Linked DNA regions of Homo sapiens: region 1 is linked to region 2. Evidence: fine-mapped expression QTL. Tissue or cell type: pancreas. Region 2 holds a variant in brackets; the other region holds the start of a gene. All regions are shown on one strand. Distances are between the middles of the regions.

Region 1 (8,098 bases), 52 kb before region 2:
GGGTGCCATGTTACAGGTTCCAGGGATTAGGATGCAGAGGCCAGGATTCGGCCATGCACACAGGCCAGTGTCTTTCTGTCTTTGCAGCTGAAACTGAGGCATGTGCACTCTGCTGCTCCAGGAGCTGTCCACCAATGCTGCTGGGGCGGCCTGTGACAGCATCGACTGAGCCTGTCATTGCCACCTGGAGAGGGGCTGAACCTTTCCTCTCCCCAGTACCAGTGCCTGCTGGTGCATTTTGGCCTCTGTGCCCAGTAGTATGGGGAAACTTTTTTTTTTTTTGAGATGGAGTCTCACTCTGTCACCCAGGCTGGAGTGCAGTGGTGCAATCTCGGCTCACTGCAACAACCTCTGCCTCCCAGGTTCAAGTGATTCTCCTGCCTCAGCCTCCCGAGTAACTGGGATTACAGGCACGCACCACCACACCCAGCTAATTTTGTATTTTTAGTGGAGACGGGGTTTCACCATGTCGGCCAGGCTGGTCTCGAACTCCTGACCTTAGGTGATCCACCTGCTTCGGCCTCCCAAAGTGCTGGGATTCCCAGGCTCACTGCTCTGCACCTGGCAGATGAAAATGGCAACCTGGGGCTCCCATGGATTCAAAGGAGCTGGGCTGCAGGCTGGGGGTGTACAGGCCACCTGCACCAAGCTCAGCCCAAAGCTGAGTCCCCGAAGAGCCTTGATATAAACACCAACACGACAAACAAAAAGAGGAGGCCCAAGAGCGCGGGGCCTGAAGACTCAAACCAGAGCCCTGCCTGGATGGGGCTGTGCTGTTTCAGATCGCAGTGGCCGGCCTCACCTGCTCCTCTCTGCACATCCTCATCAGGGTAAACTCACTCTCCCTCCTCTGCAGGGCAGCTGGAGCCACAGCTGGGAGCAGAGAGCAGGCCTAGGCCAGGCAGTTCTGCATTTGTGCCCTGCACACATCACACATTTGCGAGGGAGGCAGGAGAGGACCTCTCTGAGCATCAGTTTCCTCAGCTATATAATGGGCATCATCGTAGTCATCTCTTCCTAGGGCTTTTGTGAGATGAACTAAGATAACACACAGAAAGTGCTGGGCTCATCCTCACACTGAGCAGGAATTCTGCGTTCCAAGCTCCTGCAATTTCCATTTTCTCACCCAGCACACACAGTTGCCAGTCCTCCCTCCCGCTCCCCAGTGAGGCCTGAGGGACCCAAGTCACCTCTGCCCAGCCTGGCTCCCAGCCTAGTCTCACAAAACTGTGTTCCCTTTCCAGGGGCCCTTTGTGGGCCATGGAACCCTTGGCAGTCAGCTGATACCTAAGGTAATAGTATTAAACACTTAAAATGCTTACCAGCCAGGCACGGTGGCTCACACTTGTAATCCCGGTGCTTTGGGAGGCGGAGGTGGGAGGGTTGCTTGAGGCTAGGAGTTTGAGACCAGCCTAGACAATAAAGGGAGACCTTGACTCTACAAAAAAAAATTTAAAAAATCAGCTGGGCGCATGCCTGTGGTTCCAGCTACTCGGGAGGCTGAGACTGCAGGGAGCTATGATCACACCACTGCACTCCAGCCCGGACAACACAGCAAGACCCTGTCTTTATAAAAAATAATAATAACAAATAAAATGCTTAGATTAGCAAAGGAAAACAATCACATTAAAATATAGGCTGGGTGTGTTGGCATGCACCTGAAGTCCCAGCTACTCAGGAGGCTGAGGCAAGAGGATCAACTGAGCCCAGGAGTTCTGTATCAGCCTGGGCGACATAGAGAGACCCCATCTCTAATTAAAACAAATAAAAACGGCTATGAAAATATTTAAAAAACAAATATGTGATGTAGCAATGTAGACAAGCAATGTCTTCTTCATCAATGCGTTCAACAACAAGGTCAAGTAGTGGCGCTGATGAGACTGTAGTTTTTTTTTTTTTTTGAGACGGAGTCTTGCTCTGTCGCCCAGGCTGGAGTGCAGTGGTGCACATAAATGTGTGTTTGAGGCTGGGTGCAGTGGCTCAGCCTGTAATCCCAGCAATTTGGGAGGCCAAGTCAGGAAGATTGCCTAATCCCAAGAGTTCGAGACCAGCCTCTACACAAAATATAAAATTATCCCGGCATCGTAGTACGCACCGGTAATCCCAGTTACTTGGGAGGCTGAGGTAGGAGGATGGCTTGGAGCCCGAGAGGTCGAGGCTGCAATGAGCTATGATCGCTACACTCCAGCGACAGGGAGAGACCTTGTCTCAAAAAAAAAAAAAAAAAAAGTGTGTGTTTGGGTGAATGACTGATTGTCAGGCAGAAGCTGGTGACCCGTGGAGACATGGGGCCGCCGGAGGGGGGGAGGGATTGGTGATCCAGATACCCAAGGGGGCCCGGGGGCGGGGGGCGAAGGAGTGCGACTGGACCCGCACCTGGGCAACCGCGTCTCCAGCCTCCACGGCCCTGTCCCGCCCCCTTCCGGGCAGGCAGAGGCCCCGGGGCTGCCCTGCCGCCTGGGCCCGGCCCCCGCGGCAGCAGCCGAGCGGCCGCACCCCTTTGTGGGGCTGTCGTGCCGGGAGGGGCGCGGGCGAGGCGGGCCCGGGCGGCGCTGGGACTTGTAGGCCGGGAGCCCGGGCGCCTCCGGGCTGAAGCCCGTGGCCACGCCACCGACGCGGCTCCAGCCTGCCCAGGCAACGCGACGGCTGGGGACAGCCTTGGAAAAACTGAAGGGGAAACCGAGGCCTGGTGAAGGGATCCAGCTGGCGCAAAAGCACGCGGCCGCGCAGTGGCCGCCTCCCCCGGCCTCTAGGGGGCAAGTGAAGGTCACACTTAAATGAAAGTTTTCAAAGTCGCTTCGAAGGGCCTCCGGCTGGGCCAGAGCTTTCCCCCACCCCACCTTGTTCCATCGTGGATACACTCAACAAACATATCCCAGAGCCCTCTCCTTGCCAGGCCCTCCAGCTTGGGCAAAACATCCCAGGTCCCTGTTCTCGCAGCGCCCAAATAGCAGGGGAGGGGCTCCAGGCAGGCGAACACACAGGGCCGGGGAGGTGGGAAACTCCGCGAAGGAAGGAGAGGAAACCACGCGGGATGAAGGGCAACGGGGGCCGCAAGCGGGGGCAGGAGCGCCAGGAACGAGGAACGAAGGGGGAAGGGAGGAAAGGACGCCCAGGCTTCCGGAAGACTCGGGGGTCCCATCCCCACTGTGCAGAGGGCTAGAGCGGGAGCTGGGGGAGGGAGAGGTCAGAGGTCAAGGCTGCCGCGTGGAGCGTGGGCCGTGGAGTGGGGGAGGGGGCGGGCAGACTCCTCCCCGCCGGCAGCCAGGGCAGAGGGCTGGAGGAAACGCGGAGAACTCCTCGGTGCTGGAGGAAACGAGGGGAACTCCTCGCCGGCCTTGCGGTCCCCCACAGCCCACGGAGTGCCACTCCCAGTCCCCACAGACCCCACCTGCGTCGCCCTGTGCTGAGAGGAGGCCGCAGGGCTGGGGCCGGGAGTGACCCCAATTAGAGCTGCTGTTTCCCAGCTGCATAGGTCCCAACCGCGGGGGCTGGAGATGAGGCGGGCTTGAGGCCCCTAGTCCCGGCTTCAGAGGTGGAGGGTGTGACCCGCAGGTCCGGGATCCCGGGGTCTGTGCAGTCACACGGCCCTTCCCTTCGCTCAGGAAAGCCCGGGGCTGAGTTTCATGCTCAACCGCTGCCAACTTGAAATTCCTAGCTTTTGAATAAGGGGCCCCGCGTTTGCATTTTGCACTGGGCCCCGAAAATTCTGTGGCTGGCCCTGCCTGGTGTGAAGCTCACAGAGCCCCACTATGCGCCGCCTTTCTATGGCTGGGGGCCGGATGAGGGACCCGGGTCTGCTCTTACTCGCCCCAAGGGTCCCTGACACCAGCCCAGAACGGGGTGGAGCTGGAAAGAGCCCACACCTGCTTCCTCTGCCCACCTCATCTCCCGCGGGGCCTCTGAGACCGCCCGGGACCCGCTTCTATCGCGGCACCGTGGTGTAGCTCCCTCCGGGGTCGTATGCTGTATGTTTACTAGCCGAATTCTCAGTCCTGGACGCTCCGTGGGGCCAGGGAATATGATCTGTGCTCCGCTGCAGCCTCGCGCCCAGAGTAAATATCGGTCGGATGAACTAATCTTACATATAAAACAGAAATCATTTCCCTTTTTTAATATGGCACGTGGCTCTTCCCTAAGTCGCCCTGGGTTAAATACCGACTCAATTAACAAGATGCTAAAAACCGTTTACGTTTTTTTACGTTTTTTACGTTTAATTCACCAGACGGTGCGCTCCACGAGGGAAGGGGCCTGGCCTCCCTAGTTCAGGGTTGTGCTTAGTGCCTGCAACCGGCCGGGCCCGCGGGGGCAGCCAGGAGAGAAAGGCGCGCCCAGCGCCCCCAGGCCCGGATCCGCCCTCAGCCCGCGTGCGCTCCCCTCCCCCCTCCCCCCAATCGCCGCGCGCCCGGGTGCGGCTGGGCGGGGTTAGAACTACGCTTCCCGGCGGTCCCCGCGCGCCCGGGGCGGGGCGGGGCCGGCTGGGGGCGGGGCTGAGCTGGCGGGGGCGGCAGGCTACAAAGCCCGGGGGCGGTGCCGGGGCGCAGAGTCCCCGCAGCGCCGGTCGGGAGCGCAGCGCGGCGCACGTCGGCGCGCACGGCGGGACGGGCGCCGGAGTGGTCGGGCCTGGCGGCTGGACGGGCGCCCCTCGCTGCCCCGCGCGCTCCCCGCCGCCCCCCATGAGCGCAGCCCCGCGCGGCCCGGGTCCGTAGGCGGCGGGGCGCCCCCCATGCTGCTGCAGCCCGCGCCGTGCGCCCCGAGCGCGGGCTTCCCGCGGCCCCTGGCCGCCCCCGGCGCCATGCACGGCTCGCAGAAGGACACCACGTTCACCAAGATCTTCGTGGGCGGCCTGCCGTACCACACTACCGACGCCTCGCTCAGGAAGTACTTCGAGGGCTTCGGCGACATCGAGGAGGCCGTGGTCATCACCGACCGCCAGACGGGCAAGTCCCGCGGCTACGGCTTCGTAAGTGGCCCCCGCGCCCGGGCCCGCACCCCGCCGCACACCTTATCGCGGCCCGGGCGCCGAGTCCACTCCGGGGCACACGCCCAGACGGCCCGCTGCCGCCCCCGCCCCAGGCGCCTCCAGCCGGCGCCCGCACCTGCCGCCTCTCCCGGGCGCGCTCCTGCCGGTCCCGCCCCCACCACCCCAGGCCCCGGCCCCCACCCCCACCCCCACCCCCACCCCCACCCCCGGTTTAAAAGGAAGAGCCGCTGTGTTCAATTAGGACTCCTAAGTTGGTGGGGAGGTTTTGGAGCCAGAGGGCACTCGGGATTTCCTGGAGCAGCGGGGGGTGAGGAGCAATGGCTCCACCCCGGGGTGTTAGGAGCTCTTCGGCCTCCCCCATATTTTTAACAGCCCTCTCAGCCGCCCCAAATAAACATCAGCTTAAGTAAAAACGTCTTGAAGACACTTTCCTGCTTACCTTCCAAGCATAGCGTCGCAAACTCCTTCTCAGAGGAAAGTCTCGGCCCTCACTGGTGGGCAAGTCCAGGCGGCCCCCCAAGCTCCCTTCGGGGTTCATTTTTGCCCTATCCCCGCAGGGGATTATTTTTGTCCTTGAAGGCCACATTTCCCAGGCCTTGAACTTTGACGGGAGGAGCTGGAATCCAGGAGGCATCTTTGTGGGAGAGCCCCAGGTAGGGTTCAGAGGAGCTTTGGCTCAAGGACCCTGGGTCACAGGCACCCTCAGAGGAAGGGAAGAGAGGGGTGGCAGCATCCGGTGCCAGGGCGGAGCCGTCTGCCCCTTTCGCCCCTGGTTCCCCCCACGGCAGCCCCTGATGTGTCTCTGCTCCACCAGGTGACCATGGCCGACCGGGCGGCAGCTGAGAGGGCTTGCAAAGACCCGAACCCCATCATCGACGGCCGCAAGGCCAACGTGAACCTGGCATATCTGGGCGCCAAGCCGCGGAGCCTCCAGACGGGTGAGAGCTTGTGTTTTCCTGCCTGGCTCTTCTCGGTTTCTATATTGGGTGTCGGTATCTGTCGGGTGGAAAGAGGCCCCCCCTCCTCGCCCCAGCAGTGGCAGTCGGCTATCATGTGCCTGCAGAGCCGGCACAGGGCAGCCATCCCCCCCTCGAGGATCTAGACCCCTTCTCACAGCGTGTGGCCCAAAGAAGGGGGCGGGGGGCAGGGAGGGTACTGCACCCCAGTTGCCAGCTGTCCTCGCAGGAGGGAGGAAGTGGCCATGGGGCCTGGAGGTTGGGAGTGCCGACACCAGTGGCTGCTGACACCTGCGTCACTCACTGCCACACTTCAGCGGTGTGCCTTGGGGTTCACAAGGGGGAGGCCTGGGAGGGGAGAGGAAGCGGATGATCCCTTTTGACTAGAGGTGTGTGGCTTGTGGGATTCTGCCACCCTGTGTGCAGCCCTTGAGACGTGGCTCGTGCAGCAAGGCCAAGTCCCTGATTGTTCTCTCGTTTTAGGCTTTGCCATTGGGGTGCAGCAGCTGCACCCCACCTTGATCCAGCGGACTTACGGGTGAGTGGACATGGCTGGCTTGGGGTGGGTAGTCCGTGGAGATGAAGTGGAGAGGGCCTTGGGCTTCCTGGGTCTGGAAGGCTGGGGAAATGACAGTTTTCAGACATTTGATTGCGTTTAAGCCAAGGGAGTGAAGAGAAGGCAGATTGCACTTCTCCATCCCTGGCAGAGGCCATACCACCTAGGGGATGGTGAGCCTTGGAGCCTGCCTGCCTTGGTACACACCCCAGCTCCCTTCGCTAGGTGTGTGGCCTCAGTTTCCTCACCCGTAAAATGGGAGTGGTCACAGCACATCTGAGTTCTCTGAATGGAGGGCCTAGGGTGGGCCTGGTGCAGGTAACGCCCTCTTGAAGTGTTTGCTGATGACTCTTAGGGACTGGCAGGCTGAGTTCTTCCCCAGGCACTCCTCTCACCTGTTCTAGTGCTGGGGCAGGTGGTGGCAGTAGGTCATTGCTACCAAGGTCTGATGTTTGTGAACGTTGCTGTAGATACGATGTGTTTGGGGTGGAGGCCACCTGCCTGAGTGGCCTGGCCTATGGGCTTCTAGTCTGACTCATTTACAAGCAGCGCAGCCCACTCTTCTCCATCCTAAAACGCCTCCCACCTCCCTGCCCTTTTTTAAAACATCTAGTAAGTCCTGGCAGCTGCTTGGGGAGGGACACACACACTTAAGGGATACAAAGAGTCCTGCCTTGCGGCCTGCCTCCCCACCCCCATGATGGATGGAAGCTGTCTGCCCTAGCGCCGTGGCATATTGATGGGGTTGGAGTTGGAGGGGAAGGCAGCTCAGAGACCACCACCCCTTTCAGGGCATTGGCACTTCATGAACTTTCTGAATCCAAATCCCTAATGCCAGTTGATCACGTGTGTGTGCTCACGCATGTGCGCACCACGTAGATTCCATTGAGAGAGACACAGCTTGAGGAGTAACCTGCCTGACTGGGGCAGTGTGGACAAGGATCCTGTGGAACCCGGCTGAGCCTGGCTCCCAGGTGAATGGGTCCCCTGGGGCCTGGCTCCCAGGTGAATGGGTCAGAGGCCCCAGCAGAAGTTGCTGTGCCCACTTTTTGGGAACGCTTGGGGTGACTCGGGGGCTCCCTGCCGGCTTCCGTGTGTATTGGTGGATGTGTGCAAGTGTAGCAGTGGGAGGAGCCGCTGGCTGAGGGGTGCTGGAGGGTGGCCGGGGCCCTTCTAGCCTGTGCGAGTGGCCGGGCAGCTCAGGTTCCTGCCGGGGTGCCTCTGTCCTCCTGGGAAGGGAGCGTGTAGGGTGGTGGGAGCAGGCGGCCCTGTCCGTCTCGTCCTGGAATCTGTTTTGTAGATGTCTAGAGTCGTCTTAGAGGGTGTTTGGGGACACTGTAGCCTTCATGCCTTCACCGAGATTCTTCCTATGGGGTTCAGGCCACATGAAGAGGGTGTTCCTTGTTTTCCAGAACCTTGGCTCCATTCCCCAGGCCCACAGCAGGCGCCTGGGGGCATGGACTGGGCGGGAGCAGCTGCCCAGAGGTGAGGGTGTGTGCCTCCAGTGCCTGCAGCTCTTTTCTGCTTACAGTGGGATAAGGCCTTCCCACGTGCGTCTGGGCTCGCTCTGATCCACACAGCTACCTCTGGGACTCCATACCC
Region 2 (8,098 bases):
GCCGAAGCTGGTGGTTCTAGGCTCAAATTCTTGCTCTACGGTGACCAGCTGTGTGACCCAGGGCAGTCTCCATCTCTCTGGGATTTGCTCCTTGTCTGCACAGAGAAACAAGCCTTTCCTCTTAAGGGTGCCTGTGCATTCCAGGAGGCGGTCATAAGCACAGCTCTTAACAGAGTCTGGCACCCAGCAGCTTCCTGGCTATTGCTGGCTATTGTTGCTCTCCCATATTATAGGGGGGGCAACCAAGAAGCAACCAGAAGATGTTCAATGTCACAGAGCCTGTGGGTTCAAAGGCAGGCCTATGTGAGTCTCCTGCTGGAGGAAGAGCTCTCCTGGTGTGGCCAGTACCTGGGCCTGCTCCTGCGCTCCTCCGGCTTCCCTAGCTGCCCTCTGCCCACCTCCCGCCCCCCTGCCCTGCTCTCCTAACCCCCCAGCCTCCTGCCCTGCCCCACACCCCCCCACCTCCCTAACCCCCTGACCCCTCTGTCCTGCCCCCCACCCCCGACCCCTGTGCCCTGCGCCCCCACACCCCCACCCTCCTACCCCCTGACCCCTCTGCCATGCCCCTTCAGCCCCCCTGCCCTGCCCTCCCACCCCCCCTCCTCCTGCACTGCCCCTCCCACCCCCCATCCCCCTGACCCCTCTGCCGTGCCACCCCACTCCCCCACCCTCCCACCCCCGACCCCTCTGCCCTGCACCCCCAGCTCGGCCCTGCCTTTGTCCTGCTTACCCCCTAGCAGAAGGTGTTGCCCAGGCACTGGCAGGAGGTGGGGCCAGGCCGCACACTGGGCACTAGTTGCTATTTGCCTTCCTCTCCATGGCCCCGCCTGGTGTGGGCAGAGGTGGCATGGGGCCAGGCGGGTGGTGGGGAGGGCACCTGGCTGTCCTCTCTTCTCTCCCTGAGCTCCTGGTGGTGCTGGCCAGCAACTAGTTTGCCCAGAATTGAGGGCTTTCCTGGGAAGCCTGACTTTCAGTTCTAAAACTGGGAAGGTCCCGGGCAAAGCTGGGTGAGTTGGTCACCATGGCAGCAGAAAACCTGAGCGGGATGGGGGTGGGGCAGTAGAAGGGACAGCAGGGAGTCAGGGCCAGGATCAGCCACCCGGGACAATGTGCTGCCCCTCCAGCACCAGACAGAACCGAGGGAGGATCCCTGTCCCCCTCCCACATCACTGATTCTGGGAGCCTTAGTTTCCATTTTGGTAAACTGATGCTAGAGATTCCCCGCCTCACAGGGATGAGGGATGGGGAACTGGGTGAGGAAATGAGCATAGAGCACTTAGCAGATGCAGACATGTGATTCATGGGGGATCACATTATTAGGTCTCCGGCTTCAAACCCAGCTTCCCGCTGCTCAGAATAAAATGTGACACCCCACAGACCCTGGAAGCACCTGCGATCTCAGACCGAATCTCCCCAACTCCACTGCTCACTCTGCTCCAGCCCTGTGGGCCTCCTGGCTGCCTGAGATTGGGCCAGGCCTCGCCCTACCCCAGGGCCTTTGCACACGCTGTTTCCTCTGCCTGGAGCACCATGCTCTTCCCCCTCTCATCTTTGGGCCTCAGCTTCAAGGTCACTACACAGAGAGGCCTTCTTTGTCCCTCTTATTTGAAGGAATATCTGTCTCCTTGGGGAACAGTCATCTCTTGGCCGGTTGAGTGGCTGCCCTGGGCCTGGTATGGTGCCCCACCCAGATCAAAGCTCAGGATGTGGTCGTGGAGTGGAAGAATAAATGAATATTGACCTGTGGAGGTCCCAATGGGCTGGAGAAAGAGCCCAGTGTCTTAAATCTCTTTCCTCCTCTGAGCCTCGATTTCCTCATCTGTCAGCAGGCATGAGAGGAGCATCTGAGTCCTTGGTCTCTGTGAGGCATGAATGAGGGGACAGAGATGAAGTCTGTTCAGTGCACTTGGCCAGCAGCAGGACTCGGGGCCTGGCAGCTCCCCTGATGGCACCCTGGGGGCACTCCTCCCCACTGTTTCCTCCCTGAGGCCTGAGGACCCCATGGGCGGTGGGTGCTGCTCCACGCTCCACACAGACCAGGAAGCCAAGCTTGGGGCCACCCCCACTGCCTTCTCCCGGGCACCACTGCCCACGGCTGGCCTCTCCTCAGGCCACAGGTCTGGCCTGGCTGCCCGAACTCTCAGCCTGGAGGCAGCTGAAGCGTCACATGCCCTTGGCCAGCCGTCTCCGGGGGGGCGGGTTCCCCTCGGGAGACTTCAGCACATTGTCAAAGCTGTCAAACAATTTCCCTGCCAGGTTTTTGCAGGAATCCAAGGCCTCGCTCCCAATGCCAAACACCCTCTTAAGACGATATCTCCGGGGCCTGCAGGCCTGCTCAGCGGCGCTGCCTCTCCTCGGCCTTATATAGTCAAAAGCCGGGGAATCCCTGTCCCACCCTGGGCTGGGATCTGATGGAAGCTGCCACAGCCTTGGCCTGACCCCGGGATCTCCCGCCTCCAAATCGGCCATCTCTGGCCAAGGGGCCGGGTGAGAGGCCTGGCATGCGCACAGGCCTGCGCGGGGCTCTGGGTGTCCCATCAGCTGGCAGCTGGAGCGGCCAGGCCAGCACAGGCTCTTACCAAATAAGGCCTGGGCAGCTGGGCTTGGCCAGGCTCAGACGGCGGCAGCTGGGCCAGCAGTAGCAGGCCTGCCTGTCTCCTCCTCCCGCACTGCCCTGCCTGCCCAGCAAAGACTCTGCAGACTGTGGTCCCCTCGACTCAAGGGAGAGCTCCACCCTAAGAAGCCTGGGTAGACGGTCCCGGATCCCCTGCCAGACGCGCTGCCATGAGGAACCTCTGGCAAATTTCCATTGGGAACCTTGAGGGAAGGCAAGGTGGAGAAACATTCCTAGGACTCCCGCTGCTGCAACGGGAGCCCCGAGCCAGGCCAAGAAATGACCTGTCCCTCCCCCAGGACCCCGCTCCCACTCCTGCATCCCCCAGGGTGTTCCGATTTGGATGTTGCTTGTCCCACCAGTCAGCCCCTTCCTGGTGCCTGGTCTTTGGGGCCAAAGGGCAAGGCTGGCCAAGCGGTTTGGGAAGCGGGCCCGGGCTCAGGAGCACACTGAGGGCCCTTGGGCAGTGACCTGCCCTCCAACTGTGGCTATGATGAGGAAGGCGCATGCGTGCTGGTTGAGGAGGGAAGACCCCCATGACCATGAGCCAGTGTGGGCAGAGGAATGGGCAGGGGGAGGGGCAGGGGGCAGGTCCTCCCTTAGGAGCCACTACGGGGCATGAGGCTCCTGTGTCTGCTCGCCTTGGTTCCAGCCAGCAGCTTTGGCTCTTGGAGCCTCAGTTTTGCTATCCTTAAAATGGGTGTGATACAAACGCTATCTCAGGGTGGCAGCGGGAGTTCAAGGGGACAAGATGCACACCTCTCAGGGCCCTGCAGGGAGTTCCTGGAAGATTGACAGCAGGGCGAGGGAGGGATCTCTCCTTTCCTCGGAGATGGGGGAGGCAAGGGCTCTCTTTCTGTCCCTGACACCCCCTCCTCAGCTCCTCCTGCCCTCCCTGCTGTCTCATTATCTTAGGTGTGATGGGGGCATGGTGAGGCCTCCCAGCCACTCCCAGTGCTGGAAGTGCAGGCGTGGGGTGACCAGCTATTGCACATGTGACTGCATGGCTGTGTGTGTACGCATGTCCCTCCCAACCCCTATTAGCACAACCATGGGAACGTGACCGTGCAGCCCAACAGCCAGGGCGCGGGATACTCGAGAGGGTGGCCCCGGCCTGGGGATGTCTGTGGTTCTGCTGCTGCTCATTTCTGAAGCCCCTTCATGAGTTCTGGGACTCCTGGGGGGATGGGGCCCACTTATGAGTCCCTCAGAGGCATTCAGTGCAAAGTAAAAATGTGGCCCCCCCTCCAAACGTTCAAAAACGACGAAGACTTTTAAGACGACAACAGCAGAGCATTAAACCAACAGGCGGCCCTTCTGAGTGTGAGGGTCCCTCTGCGACTGCACAGGTCACACCCCATGCAGCCGGCCCTGTCCCCTCTGCCCCTCTGCAGCTCAGGTGGGCGGGGCCTGACCACTCCAGCCTGGTCACTCCAGCCTGGCCTTAGACTCTGAGGTGAGTGGTGCCAGGACCTGCCGGTCAGCCTGGATTCATCATAGCCTCTGTTGTCCAGTAGGCTTGGCAAGAAGGGTCTGTGGAAGTTTATAAAAGTGACACCCCCCAGCCCCCAACCTGGGGAGCAGCCAGGAGCCCTATGTCAGAATGTGCGGCCCCTAATGAAAGTGCTCTTCCAGCCACTCTATTTAAGCCAGGTGAGTTTGTTCTCAGGGACTGGAGGCCGGCAAGGTAATGCAGCTGTTTTTAGCGTTTT[A/G]GCAGGAGGCAGGTGCTGGCCAGGACGCCTGTGACGCTGTGGGTGACGATGGCCATGACCCGGACACATACAGGTTGGGCAACCTGGGCAGAGCTGGTGTGCCTGGAGGTGGGGCGGGGGGGGTGCCTGGAAGACTGGTGTGGCCTGGATGTCCTGAGAGCGCCAGAACCTCTCCTTGGGGCTCCCTGGGTGGCTACCACCTTTGACTCTTGCCCTAGGGGCACACACTGCCACCTTTCCAGAAAGTTCTCTGGGATCTACAGAAACTGACCACCCATCCAGGTGCTTGAACGTGTCAACTGGTAACTTGCAGCTGTTCTGTTGGAACCTCTGAGATTCCAAGCAGAATTGCTCAGAACCTTCCGGATGCCCCACATGACATCCGCTCCCTCAGGGATAGACAGGGTTCGGCTGCTCATCGGGGTCTCCCAGAGCCTGGAACAGCGCTGTCCTAGAAGCCGTGAACAACCATCCTGCAAAGCTGGAGAAGCAGGGCATTTCCCCGCTGACACGCTCAGGACCAGGAGCTGGTGTGCGTCAAAGTCAGCACCAAGGCCGGTCCATGGCCTGTGAAATACTCGTCCCTCAAGATTGCATTTCAATGGAAAGACTGGCATTTCCCATTCATTCACCTATTTTTTGATGGAGGAAAAAGGTCTTTCTGAGTGGGGTGGGGTGCTCTGCTGCTTGGGGTGGTCCCCTCATCTTCCTTGCATAACCCACATCTCCAGTGTATCTTGTGCCTTTGCAGTTTCTCTTTCTTTGAAATGGAAGAGAGAAAGAATATGCTCCCAGAGACGGTAACTGGAGAGCTTCGGAGCAGACTTTTATACTCTAAAGTAAACTTGTCCTTTTCATTAATTAACTAACAGAGATTTATTTGGTGTGGACCTCACGCCACAGCCTGTGCTGGATGCTGAGAACAGAGGAAAAATGAGCCCAGGGAAATTGTGCCTGAGTGCAGCTAGGTCAGTTTTCTGTTTTACAAATGCAGGAACCAAGGCTCAGAGAGGGTGTGTGAATCACCTAAGGCCACACAGCGCCTGTGTGACAGGCTTTGGCCTGTAAGGGGAAAGCCGGCTAGAAGAGATGAGAAAATGGGGTGTCATTCACCAGCAAAACTGGGTTCAAATCCGCCTCTGGGACCTTGGGTAGGACCGGCCTGCCAAACACAAATGCATATCTGATTGTTCCCCTACCCCATTTTGTCTGTGTTATCTTATGTAAAATGCAGATTCCCCCATCCTTCCTTTATCCCTTTTGTTTATGTGGGTCCCCTCAAGCTTTAAGGGCTGTGCTCTGCTATAAGCTAGCCAACTTCTTGGAGCCTCAGTTTCTCATTTGTCAATGGGAACAATTACTGCTGGTTCCTGCGGTCACTCAGCAAATATTTGTTAAGCACCTACTAGGTGCCATGCAGCATTGTAGGCACTGGGATATAGCTGTGAGCCAAACACCCAGCACAGGGCTGATGTGGGAGCTGATGGGGTGGTGCAGCGGGCCTGGTCTGGGCTCCCTCAGCGAGCCAGGCCCAGGGCGCCCCAGGGCAACAGGGCTGCACTGCAGGTAGACTCAGCTTGGCAGATCCCTGGCCCTGGGGGCCGTCACATGGGGGCCAGGCCAGGGGCGTGTGGGAGCGGAAAGAGGATGGAGGGCAGGAAGGAGGGAGAAAGAGGGAGAAGAGAGGAGGGCACTCTCCTCATCCCCATCCTTCTCCAAAGAAGAAATGACGGCATCGTGCTCTCACCGACTCATCGTCCTAGTAGGTCCTTAGGACACCCAGCAAGCCAGACCTCCGTGTGACAGATGAGGAAACTGAGGCTCAAGGGTGACGTCACTTGCCTAGGATCACAGAATTCCCGAGGGGGATCTAGGCAGTCTCCCTCCACAGCCCAGTCTCTTCCCTTCGGACGCAATAAAAAAAGAGGGAAGGGGAGAGAATGATGGAAGGGGGGAGGAGGGAGGGGCAGCAGGAGGTGTGGGAAGCAGGAGGGGGAAGAGGCCCCTGGGAGGCTTTCTGGGCCCTGCCTTATTTTCCCCTCCCTCCTCCTCCTCCTCCTCTTCCTCCTCCTCCTCCTCCTCCTTCTCCTCCTCCTCCTTCTTTGAGACAGAGTCTCGCTCTGTTGCCCAGGCTGGAGTGCAGTGGCACGATCTCGGCTCACTGCAACCTCTGCCTCCCGGGTTCAAGCAATTCTCCTGCCTCAGCCTCCTGAGTAGCTGGGACTACTCAGCTCATTTTCGTAGTTTCAGTAGAGATGGGGTTTCACCATGTCGACCAGGCTGGTCTCGAACTCCATCCCCGCTTCTCCGGGGGCTTTTGCTCCTAGGGACTCGGGCTCAGCTGAGCTCCTGTGGCAAGTCCTGTGGGACTGGCATGGAAGACTCCTGGGCATGTGGTGGCTATGACTCTTCCCTGATGATGGTGGCCGCACCTTGGGATTGGCTTCTCCTCTCCGAGTCAGGGACCTGGCATTTTTGGCAGCCCTTGGGGGCTATTTTTAAACCTCACAGCTGGTTTTCATCATGGCTGCTGATAGGTACGTGTAGAAACATTGGCTCTTGCCAGCATTCTGAACAAACCTTGAAAACGAGCAGGGTTGGAGCGGATCAAAGTAGGGGCTCAGGGAAACCTGAAGTGGCAGCCAGTGCTTTGTCCCCACCCAGACCCTTGTAAGGGTAGGAGATGAAAGAGCACGGCTCAGGGGATGAAAGGAGGTGCCAGGGCAGGAGAGAGCCAGGGATTAGGCACGTTCCCTAGAAGATGTAGCTGAATGTTGGGACACAAGAGAAGGGCTCTTTAGCAGCTAGAGCCCTGTTATCCTCATTTTCCTTCTGGGAGGCAGCAAAATACAGAGGTTGAGAGCATGGATTCTGGAGTCCCACAAACCCGACTCCTGCCTTGAGTCCTGACTCAGCCTTTAACAGTTGTGTGACTGTGAGTGTATCAGTTAGCTACTGCTATGTAACAAATCGTCCCAAAACCTAGTTGCTTAAAACATGATTCTATGAGTTGACAATTTAGCCTGAACCATCAGTTGGATGGTTCTGGTGTGGGCTGGCATCCCTCATGCATTTTTGCAGTCAGCTGCCAGGTCTGCAGGAAGCTCTGACTATCATCTAGGGTGATGGGAACAACTGGTCTCTCATTCTCCAGCAGACCGTTCTCCTGATGGAGACAGGGGTCTGAGAGAGAGAGAGAAGAAACCTGCAAGGCAGTTTGGGGTCTTAGATTTGGCACGGTATCACTTCCAGCAATTCTGTTGGCCAAAGCAAGTCACAAGACCAACCTGACTCAAGAGTTTGGAAACCACCTCTGCCTTTTGATGGGAAGAGCTGCAAAACCATTTTGCAAAGGGCGTGGATACAAGGAAGGATGAATTTAGGTCATTTTATACAAATCTGTGTACCACACTGGGTACCTATATACCTCTCTGAGCCTCAGTTTCCTCATTTGTAACATGTGAATGGTTTGGCTTGTCAATCGGAGAAAACGATGAGACAAGTCTCAATCATTTTTGGAGATTTATTTGCCAAAGTTAAGGACGCACCTGGGAGACAGGTCTATGTCTTTCTCTGAAGATGATTTTGGGGGCTCCAAATTTAAAGGAGAAAGGGTGGGATATTGAGAAACACACAGTTTTCACATAAACAAAAGGGATAAAGGAAAGATGGGGGAATCTGCATTTTACATAAGATAACACAGACAAAATGGGGTAGGGGAACAATCAGATATGCACATGGGTCTGGCAGGCAGGGGTGACTGCACCTAAAT

Evidence for each region. PIP is the estimated chance that this variant, and not a neighbour inherited with it, causes the effect.
Region 1: RBM38 starts here. The variant in region 2 is fine-mapped to the expression of RBM38 in pancreas (GTEx, PIP above 0.99).

What each region holds. Positions count from the first base shown.
Region 1 is chr20:57,386,856-57,394,953 of GRCh38, forward strand. RBM38 (RNA binding motif protein 38) reads left to right here and starts at 4,541. Exons shown (of 4, transcript NM_017495.6): 1 at 4,541-4,963; 2 at 5,799-5,922; 3 at 6,424-6,478. The coding sequence starts at 4,727. It overlaps RBM38-AS1 (RBM38 antisense RNA 1), which reads right to left and starts at 6,201. Exons shown (of 2, transcript NR_149006.1): 1 at 5,424-6,201. RefSeq lists silencers at 2,234-2,613, 4,224-4,623, 4,974-5,163 and enhancers at 4,258-4,759, 4,760-5,259, 6,014-6,203.
Region 2 is chr20:57,438,703-57,446,800 of GRCh38, forward strand. LOC124904939 (a long non-coding RNA gene) reads right to left here and starts at 944. Exons shown (of 2, transcript XR_007067672.1): 1 at 731-944. RefSeq lists enhancers at 451-952, 952-5,535, 953-1,452, 2,487-3,346. The variant A/G (reference allele first, on the strand shown) is at 4,327.